Linked DNA regions of Homo sapiens. The protein of the gene in region 2 purifies or fractionates together with the protein of the main gene of each other region. This does not show direct contact. Each region holds a gene or a part of one and is shown on either strand. Other genes may lie near its edges.

Evidence for each region. Proteins that work in one complex are often made in the same cells at the same time.
Region 1: the proteins of BIRC7 (region 2) and ZC3H7A purify together in Homo sapiens (affinity purification with mass spectrometry; 3 studies listed by BioGRID and IntAct, with this or other methods). This does not show direct contact.

What each region holds. Positions count from the first base shown.
Region 1 is NC_000016.10:11,794,257-11,801,455, forward strand, and holds the start of ZC3H7A (zinc finger CCCH domain-containing protein 7A), read right to left. Parts: upstream 3,003-7,199; 5' UTR 2,868-3,002; intron 2,273-2,867; exon of another isoform or gene 1,963-2,272; intron 1-1,962. UniProt on the Homo sapiens protein: May be a specific regulator of miRNA biogenesis. Binds to microRNAs MIR7-1, MIR16-2 and MIR29A hairpins recognizing the 3'-ATA(A/T)-5' motif in the apical loop.
Region 2 is NC_000020.11:63,231,994-63,238,905, reverse strand, and holds the start of BIRC7 (baculoviral IAP repeat-containing protein 7), read right to left. Parts: upstream 3,002-6,912; 5' UTR 2,810-3,001; coding exon 2,461-2,809; exon of another isoform or gene 1,004-2,460; coding exon 904-1,003; intron 511-903; coding exon 429-510; intron 338-428; coding exon 292-337; intron 128-291; exon of another isoform or gene 64-127; intron 1-63.

The DNA of each region.
Region 1 (7,199 bases), on a different chromosome or scaffold from region 2:
TCCTGCTCCAAATTCAGGCCTTTTCAGAAAACATAAAGCTTCCCGCTTTCTATTTGTGAAAAAGTAACCTCGTTGCTTTACATAAACGAAAATCACCTCATTTAATATGCCTTTTGTGTACATGTAAATTAAAACGTTATCACTAGCAGTAATTTTTAAACTTCTGGATTAATACTTTAATACTTCTCTCCTCCTTAAAAATTATCTAAAATTTCTTCTTGATTTGCCAACACCTCACACTTTAAGTAATTTTCATAAGGATTCTGGAGAAAAATATTTTCACTAGAAAAAAAACAAAACAAAACAGAACACTTCCAGACGTTATCCAGAAGACAAAAGTTTGCTCACATCATACTGTCTCTAGAAAGCCCTTTCTAGGGTATCTGTGGCAACAGGATACAGACGTCTTTTGTTTCTTTCTTCCTTTACTGAAATGCTCAAAACTTTCCAACAGTCACTCTCACCATCCCTGGAGTTGAGAGTTTCTATAATTGATTCTCTTCCACTTACAATGACAATTTAACCCACCCCAACTGGCAGGTTTTAAAATCAGTCAAAACTAAGAATTGTGGAACAATGTGGCTGACAAGCCACCATTCTTATTTGCAAAAACTGACAGAATCTGGGGAATGGGAAGGAAAGAGGGTGTAGGTCTGTGTAAAACCCCCAACGAAAAGTCACAGTAACATGAAGAAAGGCAGGAATTCTCCACTTCGTTTGGATGGCAGAAAATCAACGGGCTCTTTGTAGAATAAACACACACACACAAACACACACGCACAAATATTGATAATATTGAGCCTCAACAACTCATGATCTCATCCTGAGACAAACCTCATACAACTATTTGTAGCCTCCAGCATACAGCAGATAGGGAAAATTTTTCAACAGGGAAAATACTGTCCATTAACTTGAATTATTCTGCAAATTAGGACAAGACCCATTGTGCAATTCAGTTCAACAGTTTGGCTCAGTATGAGAAGGAAGAGGCAGTGGATTCTTTGAGAGCTTAAGGGAAGGAGGCCACATGCCATCAGAGAAGCAGGAAAGATAAGCAGATAGACATGTCTTCTCAGGGCCACCACCCATTCAGATGCCCCAGCTGCGCGCTGTCCAGTCGAAATATTGTACAAAATATATTACACAAAATAAGCCATACGTGTCATTGTATGTATGTATGTATGTACGCATGTATGTGGAGAGGGAGTCTCGCTCTGTTGCCCAGGGAGGAGTGCAGTGGCACAATCTCGGCTCACTGCAACCTCTGCCTCCCGGTTCAAACGATTCTCCTGCCTCAGCCTCCCCAGTAGCTGGGATTACAGGCGCCTGCCACCACGCCTGGCTGATTTTTGTATTTTTACTAGAGACGGGGTTTCTCCATGTTGGCCAGGCTGGTCTCGGAATTCCTGACCTCAGGTGATCCACACACCTCGGCCTCCCAAAGTGCTGGGATTACAGACGTTGAGCCACCCCGCCCGGCCCGTATATGTCATTTTAAATTTCCAAATAGCCACACTAAAAAAAGAGAAAAAGAAAAGCAGTGAGATTAACTTTTGTTTTTTTATTTGTTTGTTTTGAGACAGTGTCCCAGGCTGGAGCACAAAGGCACAATCTCAGCTCACCGAAGCCTCAATCTCCTGGGCTCAAGGGATTCTCCCACCCCAGCCTTCCGAGTAGCAGATTCTCCCACCTCAGCTTCCCGAGTAGCTGACTACCGGCGTGCGCCACCACGCCCAGTTAATTTTTTGTATTTTTTGTAGAGACAGGGGTCTCACTATGTTGCTGAGGCTGGTCTTGAACTCCTGCACTCAAACGATCCTCCTGCCTCAGCCTCCCAAAGTTTTGGGATGACAGGCATGAGCCACTGCATCCTGCCAAGATTAATTTTAATGATCTATTTTCGTTAATCCAATTTGTCCCAAACATGACCATCTCAACATGCATTTAAGTATAAAAGATTACCAATGACATCTTTTACTTTCTTTCTCATCCGAAGTTTTTAAAATCAGATGTACGTTTCACAGCTGGGACCGCAACTGAAACTGGCCCCATTTCGTGGGCTCCATCGTCCCAAACGGCGGGGGGTCAGTGGCCACCGTACTGGGCATGGCAAGGTCCTTCGTGGTTCAATACCGAACACGGGCAACTCCTTTTCATCCCTAGACAGGTGGGGACAGGAAAATACCCAACTCCTGGCAAATCCACCCAGTCCCGACTCAGGCTCGACCTCGGAGGCCCCGGCCGGGCCTCAGGCGGCCCCACCCCTTTGCTGCCCAGGCCTGACCGGAAGCCCCGCTAATGGGAACTGACAGGTCCCGGTCCCGGTCCTCCCGGGCGGCGCCCCCGCCTCCGCGGACCCCAAGGCCTCTCCCCGCCCGGCCCAGGGCTGCACCCCGCGCGAAAAAATAAAAAAATCAGAAAGGGGGGTAAAAAAGACGGATGAGCCCCAAATTAATGCGCCAAGCTCTCCGCCGGCATCCTTCCCGCCCCCAAGCCCAAGACGCTGAATCGGGATCCCCGCGATCACCAGAGCAGACAGAAATAACCAAAAAAAAAATTTTTTTTTAGTGAAATCACCAAAAAGGAGACATTTTGCCGAGGGAATGGCAGGCAGAAGTGGGTCACGTTATTCTCGGTGGGGGAAGGGGACGGCGCGCCCACCCGTCCCTCCGCGCGCACAGGCCCCGGCCCGGCTCCTCTCAGGGTCCTCTCGGGTCCGCGGGCCCCGGACCCCGCCGCCCCTCCCCCGCCCCGCCCGCCGTCCGTTAACGGCCGCGCGCGAGCACGAGGCGGCGGCGCGCGCGGGGGGGGCGGGGGCGCGGGCGCGCGCGTTTCCTTCATGCCCGGCGGCGTCCCCCTACCCCTACCTGTGGGGACGACGCGCCGGCCGGCGGCAGAAGGCAGGCGGAGGCGGGCGGCGGCAGGCGGGCAGCGGTGGCGGCGGCGGCGGCGGGGCCTGGGTGCTCGCTCGCAGCTCTCCCTCGGTTAGCGGCGGCGGCAGCGGCTCGGTTGCGCCCGCGGCGGCGCCCTCTAGCGGCGGGAGGCCGCGCTTGCCGCCCGGGAGACGCCGCCATTGGCTGCGCCGGAGCTACGGGCTGGGGGCGGTGGCGCCACGTCTGACTGGGGGCAGGGACCTGGGCGCGCCGTTCAATCCGGAGCCCCGGCGTCGACGCGCGGCCCACTGGGTGAGCCAATGGGAAGGCCACGTTGCGCACTGGACGCGCTCGGACTCAAGACTGATTAACCAGCACCGGGGTTTTCTGGGGCCTCGCCTGGGCCGCGGCCTGAGCAGAAGCGCTAGGAGGTAGAACAGCGTCCAGCGGGGAGAGGAGCTAGAGTCGGCATCGGGAAGCCCACCCTGGAGCCTGCTTAGCTTGACGAGCCCTCAACCGGGGCGCCCTGCTCTGCGAAGAGTAACCCTGCATCCTCAGAACAACCGTGATTGTCTTCATTCCTACATATGAGGAACGGAGGCGCGGAGCCCCACGGCAGCCGGGGATCCAAAGACAGCCTCCCTCCAGTTCCATCTGCCGGCTCTTGGAAGGCCTGGATCCCTGTCCTTCAGGGCCCAGCCCAAATGCCGCCTCGTCCATCTGCATTTTACGGCCAGGTGCCCCGCTGCGGGCACGGCTTCTTGTAAAATGCTCAGCTCAGCAGTGGGCGAGGCAGGGTCCCTGCCCCATGGGATGGAGGGCGGAGATCAGGACCCACAAGAGCCCAAAGAAGACCATTTTGGTCGGTGAAGACCAAAGAAATTCAAGCAGGAGGATGTGACAGGAGCTTTTGGGAAAGCCTCTGAGGAGGTGACAGCCATGCAACCGTGTTCGGGGAAGTGTGCCGCAGGCAGAGGGGAAATGAGTGCAAAAGCCCTGAAGCTGGAGTTCGGTGTCTGGATAACAGGAAAGGCCTGCATAGCTGATGTGTGCCAGAGGGGAGAAAGATCTGTGACACAGGGGGGCCGCCATGTTTAATTTGGAGTTTTGTGTGGAAGGGGGTCATTCATTGAGTCTGAATTGGGAGTTCCGAGGTCTCATTTATATTTTAGAAAGTTCTCTCCTGCTACTATGCAGAGATTGGGCTGTAGGAGAGACAAGAGGGGAAGTGGGGACTCTAGCTACAGTAGCTCTTCCAGGGGTCTGGGTGACGTAGATTTACAAACCAGAGTATTAGCTCAGGCTGCCATGACAAAATACCCCAGACCAGGCAGCTTAGACAACAGGAATTTATTTTCTCACAGTTTTAGAGGCTGCAAATCTAAGGTCTGGGTGCCGGCAGGGCTGGTTTCTGGTGAGGCCTCTCTCCCTGGCTTGCAAACAGCTGCCTTCTCACTGTGTCCTCCTATGACCTTTTCTCTGTGAGCAGGAATCCCTGGTGTGTCTTCCTTTTTCTTACAAGAACAACAATTTTACTAGATTAGGGCCCCACCCTATGACTTCATTTAACCCCAGTGACTACCTAAAAGGCCGTATTCAAATAGTCGTATTAGGCCAGGCGCAGTGGCTCACGCCTGTAATTCTAGCACTTTGGGAAGCCGAGGCAGATGGATTGCCTGAGCTCAGGAGTTGGAGACCAGCCTGGGCAACACAATGAGACCCCGTCTTTACTAAAATACAAAAAATTAGCCGGGCATGGCGACGTGCACATGTAATCCCAGCTACTCGGGAGGCTGAGGCAGGAGAATCGCTTGAACCTGGGAGGCAGAGGTTGCAGTGAGCTGAGATCGCGCCATTGCACTCCATATTGGGCGAGAGAGAGAGTCTGTACCAAAAAAAAAAAAAAAAGTATAAGGGTCCTATGACTTCATTTAACCCTAATGACTGCCTAATATGCCTAATAGCCATATTAGGGTTAGAGCTTCAACATACGGACTCCGGGGTGGGTATGTGCGGAGCGGGGAGCGTTTCAGTCCGTAACACCAGGTAAGTGCTGCAACAGATATTGGAGAGCTGATGGGCTGTGGTTTTAGGGAAGCTCCTCTAAGAAAGGGGTGGATTATACCGGGCGCACTGGCTCACATCTATAATCCCAGCACTTTGGGAGGCCGAGGCAGGGGGATCACGAGGTCAGAAGTTCAAGACCAGCTTGGCCAACATGGTGAAACCCTGTCTCTACTAAAAATACAAAAATTAGCCAAGCATGGAGGCAGGCGCCTGTAATCCCAGCTCCTGGGGAGGCTGAGGCAGGAGAATCACTTGAACCTGGGAGGTGGAGGTTGTGGTGAGTCGAGATCGCGCCACTGTACTCCAGCCTGGGCGACACAGCGAGACTCCGTCTCAAAACAAAATAAGAAAAAGAAAGGGGTGGATTATTCTCGTGACCAGAGGCTGCTCATCATTCAGGCCTCAACTACAGTAGCCTCTCTTGGAGAGGCCTTCACTGACAGCCCATCTAAAAGTTGCTCACTAACACAGCGCCCTATCTGATCTTCCAAGCAGTCATCATGATCTGAAATGACCTCGTCTAGTCCTGTTGCCAGAAGGCTCAGGAGGTCTCTGGATACTGGTGACACCCCAGCCCCAGCCAGTTTCCAGGTTCTTGACACCTTGGAGAGAAAGAATTCAAGAATGAGTTGAATGAAGCAAAGGGCAAGAAGGTTTTTTTTTGTTGTTTGTTGTTTTTGTTTTTTTTGAGACAGGATCTCAGTCTGTCACCCAGGCTGGAGTACAGAGGCGCAATCATGGCTCACTGCAGTCTTGATCTCCCGGGCTCGGGTGATTCCCGCCACCTCAGCTTCCTGAGCAGCTGGGACTAGTACCACACCGGCTAAGTTTTTGGGGTTTTTTTTGTTTTTGTAGAGACAGGGTTTTGCCATGTTGCCCAGGCTGGTCCCAAACTCCTGGGCTCAAGCAGTCCTCCCACCTTGACCTCCCAAAGTGCTGGCATTACAGTTGTAAGACACTGCACCGAGCTGCAAGAAGCTTTTATTGCAAAGTGAACATACACATTTAAGAGAGAAGTGCAGGCATGCCCGTGAGAATGAGTCTTGCACAATGGAGTTTGGGTTCCTAATTTTATGGGTGTTTCTTTTAGTTACAGGATGGAATTATCGTTAGGCATTCTGGAAAGGGAGGGGATTTCAGGGACCTCCACCTCAATTACTGTCTCCTTTCTTCCTTATCTGGGTTTGCTGGAAGAAGCATGGACATGTCACCCTGGCCAGAGTTTTGGCCATCTTCTCTCCCTTGGGTTTTCTGTTATCCTATGGTTTATTTGCCTAGTTCCTGTTTCAGCTGTTTGGGTTTTTCCATCCTCCTGTGACCACCCAGTGCTGTTCCTGTCTCAGGCATTTGGGCGCTTGTTTGTGGTCGGCCTCCAACCCTACAGGAGAGCAGAGACTCTGCTTTTTTTGTTTTGTTTTGTTTTTGCTTTTTGAGACAGAGTTTTGCTCTTGTTGCCCAGGCTGGAGTGCAATACATAATCTTGGCTCACTGCAACCTCTGCCTCCCAGGTTGAAGCGATTCTCCTGCCTCAGCCTCCCAAGTAGCTTGGATTACAGGCGTGCGCCGCCACCTCACCCGGCTGATTTTTGTATTTTTAGTAGAGACGGGGTTTCTCCATGTTGGTCAGGCTGGTCTTGAACTCCTGACCTCAGGTGATCCACCTACCTCGGCCTTCCAAAGTATTGGGATTACAGGCATGAGCCACCACGCCTGGCCCAAACCAGTTTCTTTTGTCCTATATTCTCAGCCCCTTGATAGTAGGTAGCACCCCTTAAATACTTCTGGAGTGGATGTCTCAAGCAAGCCTGAGGCTAAGATCTGATTAGAAGCGTGAGTAGGAGATATCCTAATGCAGTGGTGCATGTAGAAAAGAAAAAAGCCTGATGCGGTGGCTCCCGCCTGTAATCACAACACTGGGAGGCTGAGGTGGGCGGATCGCTTGAGGCCAGGAGTTCAAGACCTGCCTGGCCAACATGGCGGAACCACATCTGTACTAAAAATACAAAAATTAGCCAGGCGTTGTGGCGGGTGCCTGTAATCCCAGCTACTTGGAAGGCTGAGGCACTCATGCCACTGCACTCCAGCCTGGGTGACAGAGTGAGATTCCATCTCAAAAAAAAAAAAAAAAAAAAAAGCTCTTGTGATTGCATTGGGTCCACCTGGATAACCCAAGATGGTCTCTTCATCTCAAGATTGTAACTTAATCCCAATAGCAAACTCCCTTTTGCTAGGTAACAGGTTACTGGGGTCAGCATGTGG
Region 2 (6,912 bases):
GCTGTGTGCTGGGCACTGTTGGGGGTGGTATGGCGACAGGCAATGGGCTGTGCCCAAGGGGTAAGCTGGGAGAGAAGCAGAATGGGGCCTGGCACTGGGGGAGGCCCCTGCCGCCCCGCCCCCACCCTCACATGGCACAGCCCCCTGAAGCCAACCCAGGCAGCAGCGTCACACCCTGTCACGTGCCCGTCACTCTCCCTGCTGTCTGGGAGGGTGGGGACACCCAGTGGCCTTGGCCAAGCACAGGCTGCAGGCGCACAAGGAGTCAGCAGGGGTGGTGTCAGCTCTCACCGGAGGGGGCCACAGGGGCTGCGTCTTCCGGTTCTTCCCACGGGTCCTGGAAGGAGCCAGAGACCATCAGGCCTTGGGGAAATAGGAGGGGCAGGACCCCACTGCCACCCGGAGCCCCGAGGAGAGGTGGCGCTCACCCAGGAGCCCAGCAGCTGGGAGTGAGTCTCCTGCACACTGTGGACAAAGTCTCTTCCTTTTGACCGGAGCAGGAACTGACAGCTGCAGATGCCCCAGAGATGTAGGTTGGGGTTCAGGGCCCCCACTGTCTGCTTCAAGCCCTTGGATCCCCGGGGGTCAGGGTTGGGCCCCCTCCTCCCGCCACCCTGCAGTGCCCGTGGGCATGGGCGAGGAGGGCTGCTGTGGAGACGCCTCCATGGGGCTTCAGGGTAGTCCCATGGGAGAGGCATTTCTGCCCCCAGCAGCCCTTCCGAAAAGGGGCCCTCACAGGAAAAGTGGGTACCTGCCGGCCAGAAGCACCTCCCACAGAAGGGCCTCCCCAGTGCCCTGTGGGGCCAGGGAGGCAAAGCAGGCCTGGTGTTGGGTCGACAGAGCCGTTGGGGGCCCACCCCCTACCCATGATCAGACCCGGGGCCCCGCAGGGGCAGCCGGTACCTGGGGAACCACTTGGCATGCTCCGTCCAGGGGTCGTCCCCGCGCTTCCAGCTCTGCAGGCCCCCATAGCAGAAGAAGCACCTCACCTTGTCCTGATGGCCTGGGGTGCGGAGAGATGCTGGCCCCAGCCAAGTCCCACCCAGTCCCCGGGCCCCCGGTGTGTCCTTCCAAGGCTATGAGAGCTTCAGCTGGAGGGGAGCTCCCAGGTGGCAAGAAGGAGGAGGGGGTGGGCAGGGGGCTTGGTGGGGGATGTCACTTGTACCTCATTAGCATCAAAGGTGAAAAGGGGACAAGGGTGACTGGGGTGCCGGCCAGGATGGGCGAGAATGTTCAGGAAAGGACTGAGCTGGCATTTGCATTGTTCCCAGAGTGAGCAGTGGGGGCCCCCCAGGGCTTGGTACATCTATAGCCCTGGGGCTTCAGGAGCCAGAAGGGCCCCTCCCCAGGTCTCTGCTTCCCCAAGATGGATTCCCAGTGAGAAGAAGAAGGGAGGCTGCCCTAGAAGGCCAGTCTGGGGCCAGGCTTGCTTTTAGGAACTCATGCCTCCCTTTGGGGGTGGGGGACCCGTCATCTCTCTACCTCCTGGCGACCCCGTCCCCTCATCGGCATCCATGCGATACGTCACCTGCCACTGACATCACAGGTTTGGGCTGCATCGGGCACTGGACCTCTACCAGCCCCAAAGACCCCGGCTCTGCACCTGCCATGCCTCTTGCCTGGCCTTTGCCTCCTGAGCCTTGGACTTCCAGGGAGGTGGGTGAGCTGGGCCTGCCCCTTCACGCCACGGCTTCTGACTGTCCCAGCCACTGTCCCCCCGACCAGCTGTCTTAAGTTGGTCCAGCCTTACCAGGATGGTGCCCCGCCAGAGCCCACTGCTGACAATGACCATGGCTGTGCCAGTATTTGTAAAGCCCTCGGTGGGCCCTGCTGCCCTGTCCTTCAGCCAGGAAGTGGCAGAGCTGGGACCTGAACTCAGGTCTGACCACATGGTCTGCAGCTGTAGGGCAGAGGAGCAGGCCCGGGCCAAGACTAGGATAGGTACTCCGGGGACTTGATTCAGTTGGGGAAGACCAGACAGTAGCTGCAGGTTGGGGCCTGGAGAAATTCCCCACAGGCTGAGCATCCAGGACCTTCTGGCTGACCACTGCCTGCCTTGGTCACCCTGATCCTGTTCTTTAAACATCTCCTCTCCCTGTGCAGAACAGCAGCGGGGAAGGTGAGGGCCCCAGGCAATGTCAGCCCCACCCACTTCTATCACAAAGGGGTACTTGTGCACCAAGCTGGCGGCCTCCACAGCTGAGACCCTCAGACTGTGGCCAGAGGCAGCCCCTCCTCACATCCCACGGTCTGAAACACTCAGCCAGCAGAGACTCCGGGGGAGGGTGTCAGGCACGAGCCCATGGGCACTGGAGGGGCTTGCAGGACCACTGCTCCGTCATCAGGCCAGACCCTTCCTGTTGGGGGATGGATGCTACGGAGGAGGCAGAGCCCTGGGCTGGAAGGGTCCAGAATCGTGCCCAGGCCCACGGCAGGAAGGCCCCCCCGCCCGGGACTGACCTGTGTGGAAGAAGCCGGCAGCAGCCAGCAGCTCGGGTGGCACCTCAGCAGTCAGCGGCCAGTCATAGAAGGAGGCCAGACGCAACTCCTCAGAGCCCATGCCGGGGAAGGCAGGCCCCCTGGACAAGGTGGCCCCGGCGCCCTCCTCCTCTTCCTCCTCTGTCAGGGGCCGCAGCTGGCCCAGGATCTGCCCATCCACGTGGTCCCAGGCTCTGCAGGTGTCCAGGCCTAGGACAGGGCTGCCCAGAGAGCGGGGTCCACAGCGCTCCTGCGTGGGACCATCACCGGCTGCCCAGTGGCTCGGCTGTGGTCCACGGTGCAGGCACTTGGCACTGTCTTTAGGTCCCATGGAGGGAACACTGGCTCTGACCAGGTTTGCAGCAGAAATGGGGGCTGATGGCCAATCTCAGAATATGCCCAGCTGGCCCTTCTGGAGCTCCTGACCCCCGGGGCCCACCCTGGGGACAGCAGGGATAGGCACAGGCCTGCCACCAGACACCCTGGGAGGGGAGTATCCCAGGGCCCACAGCTTTCTGGAAGTGGCCAGGGTGGCCTCTGGGGTCACATGCTCTGTGCAGCGGGGGCGTGTCACGGGGCCCCTGGCAGGGTTGCGGATGCCGCTGACTGCACGTGGGCAGGCCACGTCTCTCTGAACAAGACGGGAAGGAACTGAGCATGGAGACCCCTCCCCAGGCTGGTGTCTGCCCCAGGGCTGTGGGGGAGGGGTTGGGGAGCTGGAGATGATGGCTCCAAGGTCAGGCGCCCAGGGCAGCCTCCGGAAGCAGAGAAGGCTCAAGGAAGGACATGTGAGCTGTGCTGCCTGTGCAGGCAGGGGCCGTGACCTCCCACCTTGCGGGGGTGACTCTAGCCTCACAGGGGCCTAGGGCTGCGTCACGCAGAGCAGGGAGGCAGGTCACCCGGCTGTTCTCTGAAACATCCCTCTGCCCCAAGGGGCCTCTGCAGGTCTGGGAGCAGCTCTTGTCCTCAGGCCAGGAAGATCAGAGCAAAAAGAAGGGCCCGAGCTGCCCTCACCTCCCGCTCCCCCTTCCCCCATCTCCCTCCACCTCCCTCCATACCAGCCTCCCCAGGTAGCCAAGGGAGAGGCTCTGATGCCCCCAAAAGAGGAGTACTCAGTGTTGGCACTGGAATCGGAGTTCCTGAGGTCTGCTGTGACCCTGGCTGCCGGTCCAAGCTCCACACTGTGCCACACTGCCAAACCCCACAGTGAGGGAACAGGGAGGAGGACTTAACCCCAGAGAAGCCAGGGGCAGAACAGGAACCCCAGGGACACCTGGGCGGGACAAAAAGGACAGCTGGATGGGGCCCAGACTTCGACACCCCCCAACCCCCGACTGAGCCCTCAACCCCAGCAAACCCAGCTCATCCACCCGGCTGGCCCTAAAAGCCCCCTGTCATCCTTCAGCCACTCTCCCCTGCTGTTCCGTCCTGGATGGGAGCGTGCAGGCTCACAGAGTTTGGAAGAATAAAGAGGAGTCGCACGCTGCAGGGCCGCTGGTTGCCACGGGGAGCGCAGGTGGGCAGGAGAGGGTTAGCTGCAGTGAAAACCGTCCCTGAGCTCACCTGGAAGCCTGGCCCGTTCTCTTCCCACTGCTGAGCCGCATAGACCCAGCTGCTGCCCACCACACTTTCACACCTGCCCCCCGACCCCCACTCACGGCGGGGGCTGGGGCTGCACCCGCCCTCCCAGGAGGCCTCTGGTGACTGTTCTGGTCATACTCAGGCCAGTGTTGCCAGGCCCCAGCGAGACCCCCAACCCTTTCCTATGCAAGGCCCAGAGCCACCTGGTTTCCTGCAGAAATCAAAGTGAAGGGTGTGGCTGGAAACCCCTCCCAGGCTCTTAAGGCCTCTGGGGTGTCTGCAGGCCCTGCTGAGGATAGAGCCCAGAAGCCAGGGCTGCAGGGCGCAGAGGGAGAGGCAGCAGGAAGCTCAGGGGCATAGGAGGGGAGGGCTGTCGGGAAAGGGCCTGAGGGCCAGCAAAGGAGTTAGGCTAGACACAAGGTAGAACTTCCCAGTGTGTTTTCTGGGATGATCTCAGGGTACCTCGCCTTCGCCCCCTCTCTGTCCTCCAGTGCCCACCTCGCCTTCGCCCCCTCTCTGTCCTCCAGTGCCCACCTCGCCTTCACCCCCTCTCTGTCCTCCAGCGCCCACCTCGCCTTTGCCCCCTCTCTGTCCTCCAGCGTCCACCACACCTTCGCCCCCTCCCTGTCCTCCAGCGACCACCTCGCCTTCACCCCCACGTCCTCCAGCGCCCACCTCGCCTTCGCCCCCTCCCTGTCCTCCACCGCCCCCTCAGCACAGCGGTTACCTTTGGTCACTTCAGCAAAACCCCGGGTGTGGGCCTGGGGCCCTTTCAGGAGGACGTGGGCCTCAAGCTGGGTGGATTTGCTGCCTGGTTCCCAGTCTGCCCGCAGTGCACCGGGGAGGTGGGAAGAGGGGCCACTGTCTCCAGCCTGCTTCTTCCAGGGGAGAGACACATGCAGCACCCAGGTTTGCTCTGAACTCTCAAGCTGGGGACCCTCTGAGGTGGGCAGGCAGCAGAGGCCGCTGCCATGGCCTGTTATGGGACCCTCTCTTCCCACTGCTTGGGGCTCGGAGAGGAGACAAGGTTGGTGTCACTCCTGGAAGTGGAAGGAAAGGCCCTGGGGCCCACTGGGGAGTTGGGGTTAGCTGGGCCATAAGCCGAGCCCCGCTCCTCCGGTGGGATCGCCCCGAGGTCCTGTGCACCTCCAAACCCAGCAGGTGTTTCTCCACACGCATCGCAGTGCCATCCCAGTGCGTAACTGTGCAGGGAGCTGCTGAGGGGCGCTCAGCTGCTTTGCCGTGTGCGGCCGGCCCAAAATTCTCAAAACAAGGACTATCCATATGTTGCTTATTTAATTAAATAAAAAGAAATAAGGAGCTAAAAATAATGGTCATGTGCCTATTCCAGAAGTGTCGGGAATACTGGGAGTATAAAGAAAGCGAAGTTCGATGTCTGAGCCATCCCTGTGGGCACCGGGGCGTGTGTGTCTGGATTTGGCAGTTGCCCTGCAGCTTTGCAGGATGATACCGTGGGGTGGGGCAGGGTGCATGGACACCTCTAGGCTTCTTTGCAATTCTGCATCTACAATGATTTCCAAATAAAAGCTGGGAAAACCCATATGCCTTCTCCCCGCTGAGCGGTAAGCACTGCTGTTACTATTTTGCTGTTTTCTTCCAAACATACCCTAAACATCTTTATTTGCTATTTGCCCATTTTTCAAAATGAATAAACATCTGTCAGTACCTAGGAGGGCCCCCTGTGATGCCCCCTGGATCCCTGTGAGTCTTTACAATTAAGTCTCCCAGCTGAGAAGATGTCAGATGGGGAGCCGTGGGGAGAGGCCTCCAGGTCAGTGAGAAAAAAGCCCTGGGCCCAGCAGGGACTCCTAGAAGCCCCAAGACCCCACAGTGACTGGGATTTGCAGCTCCCTGCAAGATTCAGAACCAGCAGGAGTTGGAGGAGAATATCCCCAAATTGCCCCCCACAGTGATGGGGACTAGCCTATTAAGGCAGGAAAAGAGGACCGTCGTCAGGGCCGGGCTCAGCATTCTCCACCAACAGCTCACACCTCCCCCAAAGCCACCCAGCCATCCGGGAAAGTCCACGCCCTGAAACTGCGTGTGGGTGCCACACGAATGAGCCCTGCTCTACTCCATGAAGCCTGGGGTTGGGGCCACGTGGGCAGATAGGTGGACCCGCTGGGCACAGGGTTCGTCTTCCTGTGCAGAGATGGGGGGTCTCAGGAGGGGCCTCCAGAGAAGAAAACATCTCCCCCAGGGCTCATGCCTGACCTTTCACCGCCAGAGCCTCACAGTCTCCTCCTGTTAACTTTTCCTCTGGGAATGCTTTGTGAGTCATTAACACTTTAGTATAAACAAGACTCTCAACTTTCTCAGAAGGAAGTTAGTGGGATTTTTAGACGGGGATGGGATCAGCCTGGGATAAGAGGGCTGAGTCAGAGCCTGTGGAGGTCCAAATGCTCTGAGCAGAAGGTGAAACCGTCAGAGGCATGTGAACCAGAGCAGCTCCGTGTTGAACGGGAGCTGGGTAAAATGGTAAAATGAGGCTGAGACCCACCGGGCTGCATTCCCAGACGGTGAAGGCATTTTAAGTCGCAGGATGAGACAGGAGGTCAGCACAAAATACAGGTCACAAAGACCTTGCTGATAAAACAGGTCGTGGCAAAGAAGCCGACAAAAACCCACCAAAACCAGGATGGTCACGAGAGTGACCTCTGGACGTCCTCACTCTCCACCAGCGCCAGGACAGTTTACAAATGCCATAGCAACATCAGGAAGTTACCCTAGATGGTCTAAAAAGGGGAGGCATGAATAATCCACCCCTTGTTTAGCGTATCATCAAGAGATAACCAAAAAAGTGGGCAACCAGCAGCCCTCAGGGCTACTCTG